4 linked regions of the Homo sapiens genome follow. The protein of the gene in region 1 purifies or fractionates together with the protein of each later gene. This does not show direct contact. Each region holds a gene or a part of one and is shown on either strand. Other genes may lie near its edges.

Region 1 (3,500 bases):
CCTAATAGAGGTAGTACTATGAGATCAATGAAGCAGGAGTTACTAGCTCTGCTTAGGGAAGGCAGAAAAAAATTCCTATTGATTTTTCCTTTGTTCAGTGGAGTAAAAAAAAATACATAATGGTTTTGGGTATTCGTCCTACTGAGAGAGAGAACAGTGTGTGCGCGGGTGTGTGTGTCCTTATTTATTTGCGGGAGTCATGAAAGACAAATGCTTAGGAACTCTCCAGAATAAAAGAGACAATAGAAACATGACAATTTAGTGCTTCACTGACCAGTTCCTGTTTTGGGGGAAAATATTACCTTAAAGGATGTTATTAAAACAGTTGGCAAAATTGGAATATACACTATAGATTAGATTATGCAGTAGATTACTCGGTGTTAAATTTCCTGAAGTTGATCACTATACTGTGATTCTGTAAAAGAAAATCCTTGTTGTAAGATGAGCTATGAGAAATATTAAAGGAGTAAAGGAGAATGATACTATTTGAGAGTAATTTGTGATACATTTGACTTTTCCTTATATTCCAAAAACTACTGCAAAACCATTCAGCCGTAGTCCCCCTTCCTCTGGAAGGAACTGAGTGGATAGTATCACAACTACTAAAAAAACGATCTGCACACACTGGCACACAGAATGATGAAGCATGTGACAAAATGTTAAAAATTGGTGATTCAGAGTATTACAGGAGTTATTTGTGTTACTTTTACAACTTTTCTATAAATTTGATATTTCAAAAGAAAAAATTTAAGAGGGAAAAGGCATAATCAGAAGGCATCTTCAAGAGGAAGCATTTCAACTGTATCCTAGTGGCTAAATTCACCGGGTGGATAAGGAGGTCAGAGACTGTTGTGTAGAAAGCGAATGGGGGCATGAAAGTACATTACTTGTTTGCACATAGTTCAGTACAGTAATTTTTCTTTTCTTTTTCTTTCTTTTTTTTTTTTGGAGACAGAATCTCGCCTTATCACCCAGGCTGGAGTGCAGTGGTGCTATCTTGGCTTACTGCAATCTCCACCTCCTAGGTTCAAGTGATTCTCATGCCTCAGCCTCCTGAGTAGCTGGGATTACAGGCATGCACCACCACGTCCAGCTAATTTTTTTTTGTATTTTTTATTTTTATTTTCATTTTTTTGCGGGGGACAGAGTCTCACTCTGTCACCCAGACTGGAGTGTAATGGCACAATCTCAGCTCACTGTATTCTCTACCTCCCATGCTTAGGTCATCCTCTCACCTCAGCCTCCCAAATAGCTGGGACTACATGTGCACATCACCACGCCCGGCTAATTTTTGTATTTTTTGTAGAGACAAGGTTTCTCCGTGTGGTCAGGCTGGTCTTGAACTCCTGGGCTCAAGTGATCTGCCCGCCTTGGCCTCCCAGTATGTTGGGATTACAAGTGTGAGCCACCTTGCCTGGCCCAGTAATTTCTGTGTAAGATGTTTGGAACACATTCTTTTAAGTATCTGTAGAATATTAGTTGGATATTCATTAATATGATGTTTATCAAATCTCACTGCTGAAAATTCAAGAAATATTTAGCAAATTATCAGATTATTATGCCAAACAGAGCCGTTGTTTAATATACTTCCATTACCAGGAAATCCCACTCTAAATATCCTCAATTTTGTTCTCCTTTACAGCTTATAATTATTACATGGTTATTTAAAAATGACACGTGGAAGAGTTTGAGCAGCCTTAAGACCAAGTAGACAATGAAAATCATACCTTTTTGGTAGGATATCACTACTGGTGATAATTTAGATATTTGGATAAACAAAAACAAGAATAAAACAGTTCTAATTAAGTGTTTGATGTCATCAACATTCATATTTATTAAAGAAATATTTTAGAGTGGAGCTGAGAAGACTTTCTGTAAGAAATCTTTAAAGCAGCAAAATAAGTGATTTTGCCAGTAACTTTCACCTGTAGAAGTCAGAATAACCAAGCACAGATCTTTTTTCAAACTTTCTATGATATTTTGACTTTGCTTCCATCCTTTCTATTGCTTAGTCTAGAGATTAAGGTATTACTTCTAATAATAGTCATTTACATTATTTATGTTGCTAATCTCTTGATGACAAGACCTCTACATGTGTCTTGAAATAAAATCAAATGGCTCTGTGCTTCATATAGAGACTAATTTCTAAGACATAAATAAAAGGTAATGGACAAAGTTGTCAAACAATAGCCAGTTAGTTCTTTGCTGAGGAAAGGGAACCATTGCTGAATGCTTTTGAGATTGCTCTTGGAATATAAGGAAAATTTTAATTTATCACAAAATCTCTAATAAGTTAAAGATCACAAAATAGATTTAAGTTTTTAAAAATTTTCTGAAGTGATCATAATTCCCCATATCCTTGCATAAATATATATTTATAAATACATAATATATATAATATCTATATGATGTTCCACTTTGAACTCTTCTTTCAAAAGATTAAAACAGTTTGAGGGCAGCCTGGGCAGCATAGTGAGACCCCATCTCTACAGAAAAATTAAAAAAAAAAATTAGCCAAGCATGGTGGCACACATCTGTAGTTCTAGCTACTTGGGAGGCTGAGATGGAAGGATCACTTGAGTCCAGGAGGTTGAGGCAAGGCTGCAGTGAGCCATGATCACCTCACCGTATTCCAGTTTGGGTGACAGAGTGAGACCCTGTCTCAAAAAAAAAAAAAAAAATCAAAACATTGGAGCACAATACAATACAATCTGAATTATTTATTATAAGTAAATTTGCTTTCTTTCTGAGAGTGAAATACAAGAGAACATTTTGGGGCAAATGAAATAGAACCAGAGTTTTAGAGATTAATAAGTCAGTTTCTAAATCTTCTAAAGATTGAGATAGAATTAATTTTCATGGTTTCTTGACATTTCATATTGTAAAAAATAGCAGTGGAATCCTTTGAGAGATGCTGTTTACGGAAAAGTTTATGATAGATTGAAGTGTTAAAAGTTAGTACCCTTGATTATGTTATATAACAAAGATTTGTAAACTTGAAATTGCTAAAACAAAGTAATCATTAGAGAATATGAAATAGTTTATAGTTACTTATTTTCTCTATTCATAGTTGCTAATGAATAAAAGTAAGTTGTAAGCTTCATGCTTTAGGTGTTTTAAACTTTTTAAATATGTTTGGAAAATGTGGCCTGGCACAGTGGCTCACACTTGTAATTTCAACACTTTGGGAGGCAGAGATGGGAGGATAGCTTGAGTCCAGGAGTTTGGGACCAGCCTAGTGAGACCCTATCTCTACAAAAAATAAAAATAAAAAAATTAGCTGGATGTGGTGGCATGCAACTGTGGTCCCAGCTACTCGGGAAGCCTTATGCCCAGGAGATCGAGGCTGCAGTTAGCCCTGCCACTGTATTCCACCCTTGGTGACGGAGTGAGTAAGACCCTGTCTCAAAAAAATAAAAAATAAAAATAAAATGTCCGAATGGTTTTTACAGTTGCTTTTTTTTTTCCTGATTACTATGCTCATGTTAGTTTATATCTGT
Region 2 (3,500 bases), about 38 Mb from region 1:
TTCCGTAAGACCAGCTTACAGCTGATTCATCTCCTGTTTTGAAAACGTAATACTTTTATATTCTCTCATAAAATTATTCAGTACTTCCACTAGAATTGGAGCAGGAACATCACAAATGAGTCAATTCTCTGCCTTATATTCTACTAATGAGTTCCGCCAAAAGGGAAGAAACCAACCTTGTTTATATACTACTGTTTAACAAATTTCTATAACTTCAGATACCTATCATTGTCCAATTGTACTCCCCTTTACACATCGTAAATTCATATCTAATGTTGAATCTAATGCTACTAATATGAAAGTCCTACTTCATCAAAATTCTCTTCAAAATATTTACGTACTATATATTTTACACACATTGGAAAGATATAAAAGGCATTATATGGTGCTTGAAAAACTACAGTCCAATAACAGTTGGCGAAGTTTCTCAAACTTGTCAATTTCCTTTTAAAGCCATTTTTCTATATGGGAACCTCATCTTGGTCTTGACATCTGACAGGCACCTTTATTTTACAATTTAAGGAGCAATCATTTTCACCTTACTCAAGAATTACAGAAATGTCTTACCAAGTGTAAACATAATACATTTAAATTACCTGTAGAGTAGTTAGTTGTTTTTGTTACGGATTCTTGAGCTTCAGATATAGCCTTCAAAATCAGATTCTTGTTAGCTTGTTTAGAAGGTGGAAGAGAAGGTCTAAAAGAGTTAAGAAAGGTATTTTTATTAAACTTTAAATTTCAGTTCCTCACAGGCCAGCCATCTATTATGCCTTTACCACAACCTTCTCTAGGTTTTAAACAGACTAGCTGCAGTTTTTAGAAAATGCCAACTACACTGGAACCTTATTTTTTTTTTTAGACAGACTCTTACTCTCTCACCCAGGATGGAGTGTGATGTCACTGCAGCCTTAAACTTCTAGGCTCAAGCAATGCTTCCACATCCACCTCTCCAGTCCAGGACTACAGGTGCCTGCCACAATGACCAACTAATTTATTTTAATTTTTTTTAAGAGACAAAGACTCATTACATCGCCCAGGCTGGTCTCGAACTCCTGGTCTCAAGCAATCCTCCTGCCTCAGCCTCCCAAAGTGCTAGGTACAGGCATGAGCCACCATGCCTAGGCCCCTTTTAGTTTTTTTAAATAATAAATCTGAATCTTAATTGATGTTGTTCCTCCTCACCCCACCATATTAGTCAATATTCTCTGCAATCCTCTCCAATGTTAAGCAATTTCTCTCATTAACGTGTTTCTCAAAACCCAATGGAAAAGTCTTACACGGTATTACATTAAATATTTATGTCAGGTGCGGTGGCTCATGCCTGTAATCCCAACACTTTGGGAAGCTGAGGAGGGCAGATCACCTGAGGTCAGGAGTTCGAGACCAGCCTGGTCCAACATGGTGAAACACCATCTCTACTAAAAATACAAAAATTAGCTGGTCATGGTAGTGCACACCTATAATCCCAGCTATTCAGGAGGCTCAATCAGGAGAATCACTTGAACCTGGGAGGCAGAGGTTGCAGTGAGCCGAGATCGTGGCACTGCACTCCAGCCTGGTTGACAGAGCGAGACTCCGTCTCAAAAAACAAACAAAAATTATTTTCGTGATTATTCTCTTCAATAAATCAGGAAGACTCCACCAAGGCAGTTAAAGATTAATTTACAGCCATGTTCAAGGTACCTCCTTTCAGGCTTTGCAGGCACAGACACACTGCTGGAGATGCTTCCTGTTCGAGACCCGTAATCATCATCTTCTTCCTCCTCTTCTCCATCATGATTGAATTTTTTTACTTTAACAACTGAACTTACCACAGGCAACTTTCTCTTCCGAAAGTTTTCATCCTGCAATCAGATAAAATTTATGCTTACCTAATCTCAGAAAATAACAAGAGTTCTACCACAAAATGTTTCCATTTTAAGAAAAAAACAGTACACAGTAATATGAGAAATTCACAGAGTATTTCTTGGTTTTATGTAAAAATATAAATATGAGGCTGGGTGTGGTGGCTCACATCTGTAATCCTAGCACTTTGGAAGGCCGAAGTGGGCGGATCACAAGGTCAGGATTTCGAGACCAGCCTGGCCAATATGGTGAAACCCTGTCTCTATAAAAATACAAAAATTAGCTGAGCGTGGCGGCATGTGCCTGTAGTCCGAGCTACTCGGGAGGCTGAGGCAGAAGACTCACTTGAACCCGGGAGGTGGAGGATGTAGGGAGCCAAGATCATGCCACTGCACTCCAGCCTGGGCGACAGAGTGAGACACCGTATCAAAATAAATAAATAAATAAATACTATAAATATAAATATTATCCCTAACAGTCAACCTTTAGCTAAAACAAAAATTAGAACTTTACATTTATTTTATCAACAGCTGCATATAGTGCTATTGAGGAAACTAATAAAACAGAGTTAATTGGTTGCTCACTAGCAATTACCATGAACAATCTAAAATTGATTGAAACCCCCCAAATTAATTTAAGATTAATATCTCAAATGCTGGAAATCCCAAAAAGGTATACAGATGTGATACAAAAGAACTCTAGGAGCAAGCCATGGGGAAGAAAATCTGGTATAGCATGAGAAACAGCAGATAAAACAATTTAAAAATAAACTTGGGGCCAGGCGCCATGGTACATGCCTGTAATCCCAACACTTTGGGAGGCCAAGGAGGGCAGATCACCTGAGGTCAGGAGTTCAAGACCAGCCTGGTCCAACATGGTGAAACACCATCTCTACTAAAAATACAAAAATTAGCTGGTCGTGGTAGTACACACCTGTAATCCCAGCTATTCAGGAGGCTGAATCAGAAGAATCACTTGAACCTGGGAAGCACAGGTTGCAGTGAGCCAAGATCAAGGTGGGTGGATCACAGGGCCAGGATTTCAAGACCAGCCTGGCCAACACGGTGAAACCCTGTCTTTGCTAAAAATACAAAAAATTAGCCAGGCATGGTGGCGGGTAATACCAGCTACTCGGGAGGCTGAAGCAGGAGAATCGCTTGAACCCAGGAGGTGGAGGTTGCAGTGAGTTGAGATCGCGCCATCACACTCCAGCCTGGGCAACAAGAGTGAAACTCCTTCTCAAAAAGTAAAATAAAATAAAATAAATTTGGAATATGTGTTTTTTTTGTTTTTTGTTTTTTCTTTTTTGGTTGAGACGGAGTCTCGCTCTGTTGCCCAGGCTGGAGTGCAGTGGCACGATCTTGGCTCAGTGCAAGCTCCGCCTCCCAGGTTCACGCCATTCTCCTGCCTCAGCCTCCCGAGTAGCTGGGACTACAGGCGCCTGCCACCATGCCTGGCTAATTTTTTGTATTTTTAGTAGAGACGGGGTTTCACCGTGTTAGCCAGGATGGTCTCAATCTCCTGACCTCGTGATCCACCCGCCTCGGCCTCCCAAAGTCCTGGGATTACAGGTGTGAGCCACTGTGCCCAGCCTTGGAATATGTGTTTAGTTACTTCATATATTATTTGGTATCAAGAACTGCCGATTTTTAGCC
Region 3 (3,500 bases), on another chromosome or scaffold:
AACCTCTGCCTCCTGGGTTCAGCCTCAGGAGTAGCTGGGATTATAGCCATGCGCCACTACACCTAGCTAATTTTGTATGTGTGTGTGTATTTTTAATAGAGACAGGGTTTCACCATGTTGGCCAGGCTGGTCTCGAACTCCTGACCTCAAGTGATCTGCCCCCCCTCAGCCTCCCACAGTGCTGGGATTACAGACATGAGCCACCGCACCCAGCCTTTATTATTATTTTTAAAATAGACTTGGGCTGAGGCAGGAGGATCCCCTGTGGCCAGGAGTTCAAGACCAGCCTGGGCAGCAGAGTGAGACCCCTGTCTCAAAAATAAAATAAAATGGCCAGTTGTGGTGGCTCACGCCTGTAATCCCAGCACTTTGGGAGGCTGAGGCGGGCGGATCACCTGAGGTCAGGAGTTCAAAACCAGCCTGGCCAACATGGTGAAACCCCATCTCTACTAAAAATACAGAAATTAGCCGGGCGTGGTGGTGCGCACCTGTAATCCCAGCTACTTGGGAGGCTGAGGCAGGAGAATCACTTGAACCTGGGAGGTGGAGGTTGCAGTGAGCCGAGATCACACCACTGCACTCCAGCCTGGGCAACAGGAGTGAAACTCCTTCTCAAAAAATAAAAAATAAATAAAATAAAATAAGACTATTTTGTAGAACACTTTGAGATTTATGGAACAATTGAGAAGACGATACAGAGTTTCCATATGCCCCATACCCAGTCTCCTCTATAGTTAATGTCTTCCATTCATATGATACATTTGTTGTAGTTAATGGGCCAGTATTGATATATTATTATTAACTAAAGTCCACCTTTCATTCAGATTTCCTTTGTTTTTTCCCAGTAACCTTCTTCCATCCCAGGATCCCACATGACATTTAGTCGTCATGTCTCCCTAACCTCCTCTGGGCTGTGACAGTTTCTCAGACTTTCCTTGCTTTTCGTGACCTTGACGTTTTTGTTTGTTTGGTTTGGTTTGGTTTTTGTTTTTTGTTTTTTGAGATGGAGTTTCGCTCTTGTTGCCCAGGGTGGAGTGCAATTGTGGTGCAGTCTCGGCTCACCACAACCTCTGCCTCCTGGGTTCAAGCGATTCTCCTGCCTCAGCCTCCCAAGTAGCTGGGATTGCAGGCATGTGCCACCACGCCCGGCTAATTTTGTATTTTTAGTAGAGACAGGGTTTCTCCATGTTGGTTAGGCTGGTCTCGAACCCCTGACCTCAGGCGATCTGCCTGCCTCAGCCTCCCGAAGTGCTGGGATTACAGGTGTGAGCCCCCATGCCCGGCCAACCTTGACGGTTTTGAGGAAGGTGGAGTAGGTGTTGTGTAGAATGTCCTCTAATACTGATCTGTCTGGTGTGTTTATTTTTTTTTTGGTTGGTTTTTTTTTGTTTTGTTTTGTTTTGTTTTTTGAGACGGAGTCTCGCTCTGTCACCCAGGCTGGAGTGCAGTCGTGCAATCTCGGCTCACTGCAACTTCCGCCTCCTGGGTTCATGCCATTCCCCTGCCTCAGCCTCCTGAGTAGCTCAGATTACAGGCATGTGCCACCACGCCCAGCAAATTTTTTTGTATCTTTAGTAGAGACAGGGTTTCATCATGTTGGCCAGGCTGGTCTCAAACTCCTGACCTCAAGTGATCCGCCGGCCTTGGCCTCCCAAAGTGCTGGGATTACAGGTGTCAGCCACCATGCCCAGCCACTCTGGTGTTTCTCATGGTTAGACTGGGGTCTTGGGGAGGAAGACCACAGGGGTGAAGGGTCCTTTCTGTCACATCCTATCAAGGGTACGTGTTAGCCACGTAACTTATCACTGTTGATGTTGACCTTGATCACCTGCCTAAGCGACATGGAAAGTTTCATCTTCATTTATTCAACAAACGTTTGTCGAGCATGTACTGAATGCCAGATAGTGCATTAGGGGCTTGGAATAGAGAATTAAGAAGAGAGGCTCTTGTCCTCAAATCGTGCATGACCCTAGGGCAGGCAGGCAGGCAGGTTTAGAAATAATTGCCATAGAATGTGCATTGGGCTTGGGTGTAGGCAGAGGGGTGGATGTTTTCAGGGAGAGAGAGGGGGAAAAGCGAGCCAGGATGCTGGAAGAAGGGAGGTTGACAGAGAAGTTTTCACAGAAAGAATGGCCAAACCGGCCAGGCACAGTCCCAGCACTTTGAGGAGCCGAGGCGGGAAGATTACTTGAACCCAGGAGGTCAAGTCTGCAGTGAACAGTGAGCTATGATCATACCAGTGCACTCCAGCCTGGGAGACAGAGCAAAACCCTGTCTCTAAAAAGAAAAAAAAAAAAATCCTTGGCCAGGCACGGTGGCTCACGCCTGTAATCTCAGAACTTTGGGAGGCCAATGCGGGCAGATCACAAGGTCAGGAGATCAAGACCATCCTGGGTAACACAGTGAAACCCCATCTCTACTAAAAAATACAAAAAATTAGCCAGGCGTGGCGGTGGGTGCCTGTAGTCCCAGCTACTCAGGAGGCTGAGGCAGGAGAATGGCGTGAACCCAGGAGGCGGAGCTTGCAGTGAGCCGAGATCGCGCCACTGCACTCCAGCCTGGGCGACAGAGCAAGACTCCATCCATCTAAAAAAAAAAAATCCAAACCGGGTCTTGGAGAATGCCCTTCCAGTCAGAGGGAACAGAGTATGCACAGACACTGGCAGACATCAGGAGACCCATGTGCCTGGAGGACTGAGTGTGCCAAGCAGGGATGCAGAAAGAGGCGAGGCTGGGAAGGGCATGCACGTCTTGCAAAGACATCTGGGCTCCATCTCACCATTGGGAGCTGCTAAAGGGTCTTAGGCAGGCAATGACGTGGCAAGAGCTGCAGTTCTGTATGGTTCTGGTGGCCCCATGGACAGAGCATCAGAAAGGACAGAAAGTTCAATGGACGTGGCAGGCGCCATCAAGACAGCAGCTTTGGTGGGGCACGGTGGCTCACACCTGTGATCCCAGCACTCTGGGAGGCTGAGGCAGGAGCATCACTTGAAGCCAGGAGTTCAAGAGCAGCCTGGGCAACATAGTGAGACCCCAAGTCTCCAAAATTAGAAAAATTGGCAAGGCATGGTGGCGAATATCTGTGGTCCCAGATACTCAGGAGGCTGAGGTGGGAGGATCACTTGAGGCCAGGATCTCGCACCACTGCACTCCAGCCTGGGAAACAGAGCAAGACCTTGTCTCTAAAAGCAACAACAACAACAAAAAGACAGCAGCTTCCAGCCTGGAGAGCAGAGGCCAGTTGGGAGTGAGGTGTGGGATGTGGGTGGTAGACTTGGCTGAGCTCTAGAACATGAGAAGGGAGGAGGGGAACACCCAGGCCTGGCCAGAGTGGGTGGGTGGAGGTGGCAGGTGGCACCGGGGACCCAGATAGATGCACCCGCAGTAGGACAAGGGGCCTGCTTCTGTCAGGAAAGCATTGAATTTGAAGAGCATCTCCGCATGAGGGGCCAGAAGGGTCTTTCTAAAATGCAAACCTAGGCCACGGGCAGTGGCTCACG
Region 4 (3,500 bases), on another chromosome or scaffold:
ATGTGATTTCACTAGCTTTTGGTAAATATTTCCCAGATATATAAAAGCCAATAGCTGAATTTTACCTTTTTATCCAGTCTGATCTTGGTGCCTGCCTGTACAGCATTGTGTTTACTGATATATTTGGATTTCTGTCTACCATCTTATAGATTGTAGGAGCCCACTCCCAACTTTGTGGAAGGTTTGTGTTATAAGTCTCTTTTTTCCAGTGGTTATCATAAGGATGTTAACATTAAAGTCTGAAATTACTTAATATCATTAGCCTTTTCCTGAATTACAAAAAGACATAAGGTTATTTAACTCCAGTCATCTCCCCCAATATGATCAATTATTGCCCAGTATTTTAGTTATATCTTTTTCACCACAAATTGAACATTATTTTTATACAGTTAAATGTTTTAGATCTAATCATATTGTACTGTGTCTTTGCTTACTGTTTCTTCTTACATTTCAGTCTTTTCTTGAGATAATTTCCCTTCCATCTAAAATGAATTGGAATTTCCATTGAGAAGGTATGTTGTTGGTAAATCTCTTATATGTCTCTTAGGTATGAAAATTACCCTGGTCTTGAAAGAGTTCTAGGTTGACAGCATTTTCTCCTAGTACAATGAAGGTATTCTTCCTTTGTTTTCTACTGGCTTTGACATTTGCTGCTGGGAAGCCAGTTAGCTAATTATTGTTCCTTTGTCCGTGGTGTGACTCCTCACTGGCTGTTTTTAACTTTCTCAGTTTTAGTATTTTGCAGTTTGACTGTAGTGTGTCCATGTGTGGATTTTAGTTGCACAGCTTGGGTTTCCTGGGTATCTTGGATCTGAGGACAGGTGCTACGTTAGTTCTAGAACAGTGCTGTTCAGTGTACTCTTTGTGATGATGTTCTACATCTGTGCCGTCCATATGGTAACTGCCTGCCTCTTGTGGCTAACAAGAACTTGAAATGTGGTTAGTGTGACTGAGGAACTGTGTTTAAATTTTAATTTCAGTAGCCACATGTGGCTAATGGCTACTTTATAGGTGAGTGCAGCTCTAGAAAATTCTCAGCGGTTATTCATGAAAATTGCCTTTTCTCCATTCTTTCTTTCTGGAACTCTAGTAACATGAAAAGGACCGATGGAAATCTAACTTCCCATCTGTCAACCTGTCATGTTTTCTTTGTGCTACATTCTGGATGATTTCATTTGTTCTTACCTTCTGTTCACTATTCTTTCCTCAGTCAGGCCAAATCTGCTCTTTTATTCATCCATTTAATTTTCAGTTTCGGTTATCTTCTATTTTTAGAAATTGTATTTGGTTCTATTTCAAATCTGCTTATCATTCATTATAGTTTCTGGTTCTTTGCTCATATTTTTAAGCTTCTCTTAAGCATGTCAAAACATTAATAGTTTTCCGTCCTAATCTCAGAAGTCTGATTCAGCCATCCGTTTCTGCACATTCTCACTCATGGTGCTTTGTTTTCTTGTGTGTTTTGTGATTTGATTTGATTTTTCCTTGAGTTGCTTGTTTTCCTTGGAACTTCCTCTGTGGGAATCCTATTACCTAGATTGAGGTTGTATCCTTCCAGGGAGGATTTGTGTGTGCTGATACCAGTCTCCTGGGGACATTACATCCTTGGAGTCACTATATCTTTAATTCCTGGCTTAATGTTTTCTCAGCCATACTGGGTAGAATAAATATGGACCTGGCATCTCAGGAGAAATTTTCCTCATCCCCACTACTCTGTATCAATGATGAGACATTTCCTTGCACACAGGTTTTCCTCTTTACCCTTATGCTGAGGTCCTTTTGGAGTCCCAGCTTGTAGCTTAATACAGGACACTTTGTGTGTTGCCTCCCCTGCCCCCACACAGTCCCCAGAGCACAGAGCCAGGCTCCCAGGTTTGTGGAGTCTCCCAGCGGGAAATCCTGCCTCAGCACATGTGTTCTCCCAGGGTTTCTGCTTTCACTTCCTTTGTGGCCTCTCCGGAGCCTTTCCTTTTGTGCTAACTCAGCAGTGTGTTTCAAAAGGTGTTTAGTTTGTATCTTTTGCTTTTAATATTTTATTCAGCACTTCAGTTGTTTCAGTCTGGCAGTGGCTCAGGTATTAGCTTGCTCTAGTTGCTGGAACAAAATCCAAGTCAGAGCATCTTTATAGCAGACTGTCAAGTGAAGGGAGTGGAATATGTGCATGAAAGTGTTAATCTGATCTTTGCAGAGGGAAAGGTCAAAAAGTTGTTAAGCATTTTGGTTGAAACCAAACCTTCAGTCAAGCTGTCAAACTGTGGGCATTTCAAAACTTTCCAATTGATATTTCTTTGTCATTTTTCTTTTGACTATTAAAAGCACATGATAGACTACTTACTAATTTCTAGGCATTGTAAATGCAGTGTTTAAGGATGCTATTCAGTCTGACTGAATTTTTCTAAGTTATTTGTAGTATCTGAAAATCGAGTCATATGGTATTATTACCCACAGGGACAGTACTCAGAAGTCACAGATTTGTGATTGTTCATTAAGTCAGACACTTAACTTTAGGGATAAATTAAAGAGGGGGAAATGCAGCTTCATTCTGTTGCCTATCACCCGTTGTCATCCACAACTCATTCATTTGAACTTCAGATGTGCCAGGTCCTCTGGGATGTCAGTATGAAAGGCCTGTCCTTGTACTCAAAGGGCACAATGTCTTGAAGGAGGGCAGGCTGTCTGCAGGGGCACAGTGCAGGCTCCTGGCACAGTTCCTCAAGCCCAGAGGCTTTCAAAGGACCCAAGTCTTGAAATGTCTGTGTATTAGTCTGTTCTCATGCTGCTATGAAGAAATACCCGAGGCTAGGTAATTTATAAAGAAAAGAGATTTAAATGACTCACAGTTCCAAAGGGCTGGAGAGGCCTCAGGAAGCTTACAAATCCATGGTGGAAGGGGAAGCAAACATGTCCTTCTTCACATGGCAGCAGGAAGAAGTGCCGAGCAAAAGGGGGAAAACCCTTATAAAACCATCAGATCTTGTGAGAATTCATGAGAACAGCATGGGGGTAACTGCCCCCATGATTCAATTACCCCCACCAGGTGCCTCCCACAACATGTGGGGATTATGGGAACTACAATTCAAGATGAGATCTGGGGAGACACAGCCAAACCATATCAGTCTGTTACTTAGTACTTTGAGTGAGTTTTAAACCTTACTCTATCACTTCAGTTGCTTCAAAAATACTTCCATAGTACAGCTCCACAGTCTGCAAGTCCAGACTTTGCCTTGTCAGATCCCAGATATTCAGTTCAGCAGACATTTCAGTAGCTATTTTGTGCCACTTGGATGCTGGGAATAAAGATTTGGATCCTCCCTAGGACAGTTGACATTCAGATATTAATGAATTGGTGTATTTAAAATGTGCGAGTTTAAATGTATTTCCTAATTTAAATTCACAGAAAAAGGCTTGAAAATTTAGACGTATGTATAAATAGTTGCCTATTGCATAGTGGCTGCACATAAGAAGTTTTTTTATGTTTTAGTTTGTTTTATAGTCTCAAG

Evidence for each region. The genes of interacting proteins can lie anywhere in the genome.
Region 2: the proteins of SOS2 (region 1) and ZC3H14 purify together in Homo sapiens (affinity purification with mass spectrometry, with the first as the bait; one large-scale study listed by BioGRID). This does not show direct contact.
Region 3: the proteins of SOS2 (region 1) and EVI5L purify together in Homo sapiens (affinity purification with mass spectrometry; one large-scale study listed by BioGRID and IntAct). This does not show direct contact.
Region 4: the proteins of SOS2 (region 1) and SNX9 purify together in Homo sapiens (co-immunoprecipitation; one study listed by IntAct). This does not show direct contact.

The regions. Positions count from the first base shown.
Region 1 is NC_000014.9:50,162,079-50,165,578, reverse strand, and holds part of SOS2 (son of sevenless homolog 2), read left to right. Parts: intron 1-3,500.
Region 2 is NC_000014.9:88,573,037-88,576,536, reverse strand, and holds part of ZC3H14 (zinc finger CCCH domain-containing protein 14), read right to left. Parts: intron 1,845-3,500; coding exon 1,684-1,844; intron 698-1,683; coding exon 597-697; intron 1-596. UniProt on the Homo sapiens protein: RNA-binding protein involved in the biogenesis of circular RNAs (circRNAs), which are produced by back-splicing circularization of pre-mRNAs.
Region 3 is NC_000019.10:7,836,718-7,840,217, forward strand, and holds part of EVI5L (EVI5-like protein), read left to right. Parts: intron 1-3,500. UniProt on the Homo sapiens protein: Functions as a GTPase-activating protein (GAP) with a broad specificity.
Region 4 is NC_000006.12:157,829,746-157,833,245, forward strand, and holds part of SNX9 (sorting nexin-9), read left to right. Parts: intron 1-3,500. UniProt on the Homo sapiens protein: Involved in endocytosis and intracellular vesicle trafficking, both during interphase and at the end of mitosis. Required for efficient progress through mitosis and cytokinesis. Required for normal formation of the cleavage furrow at the end of mitosis.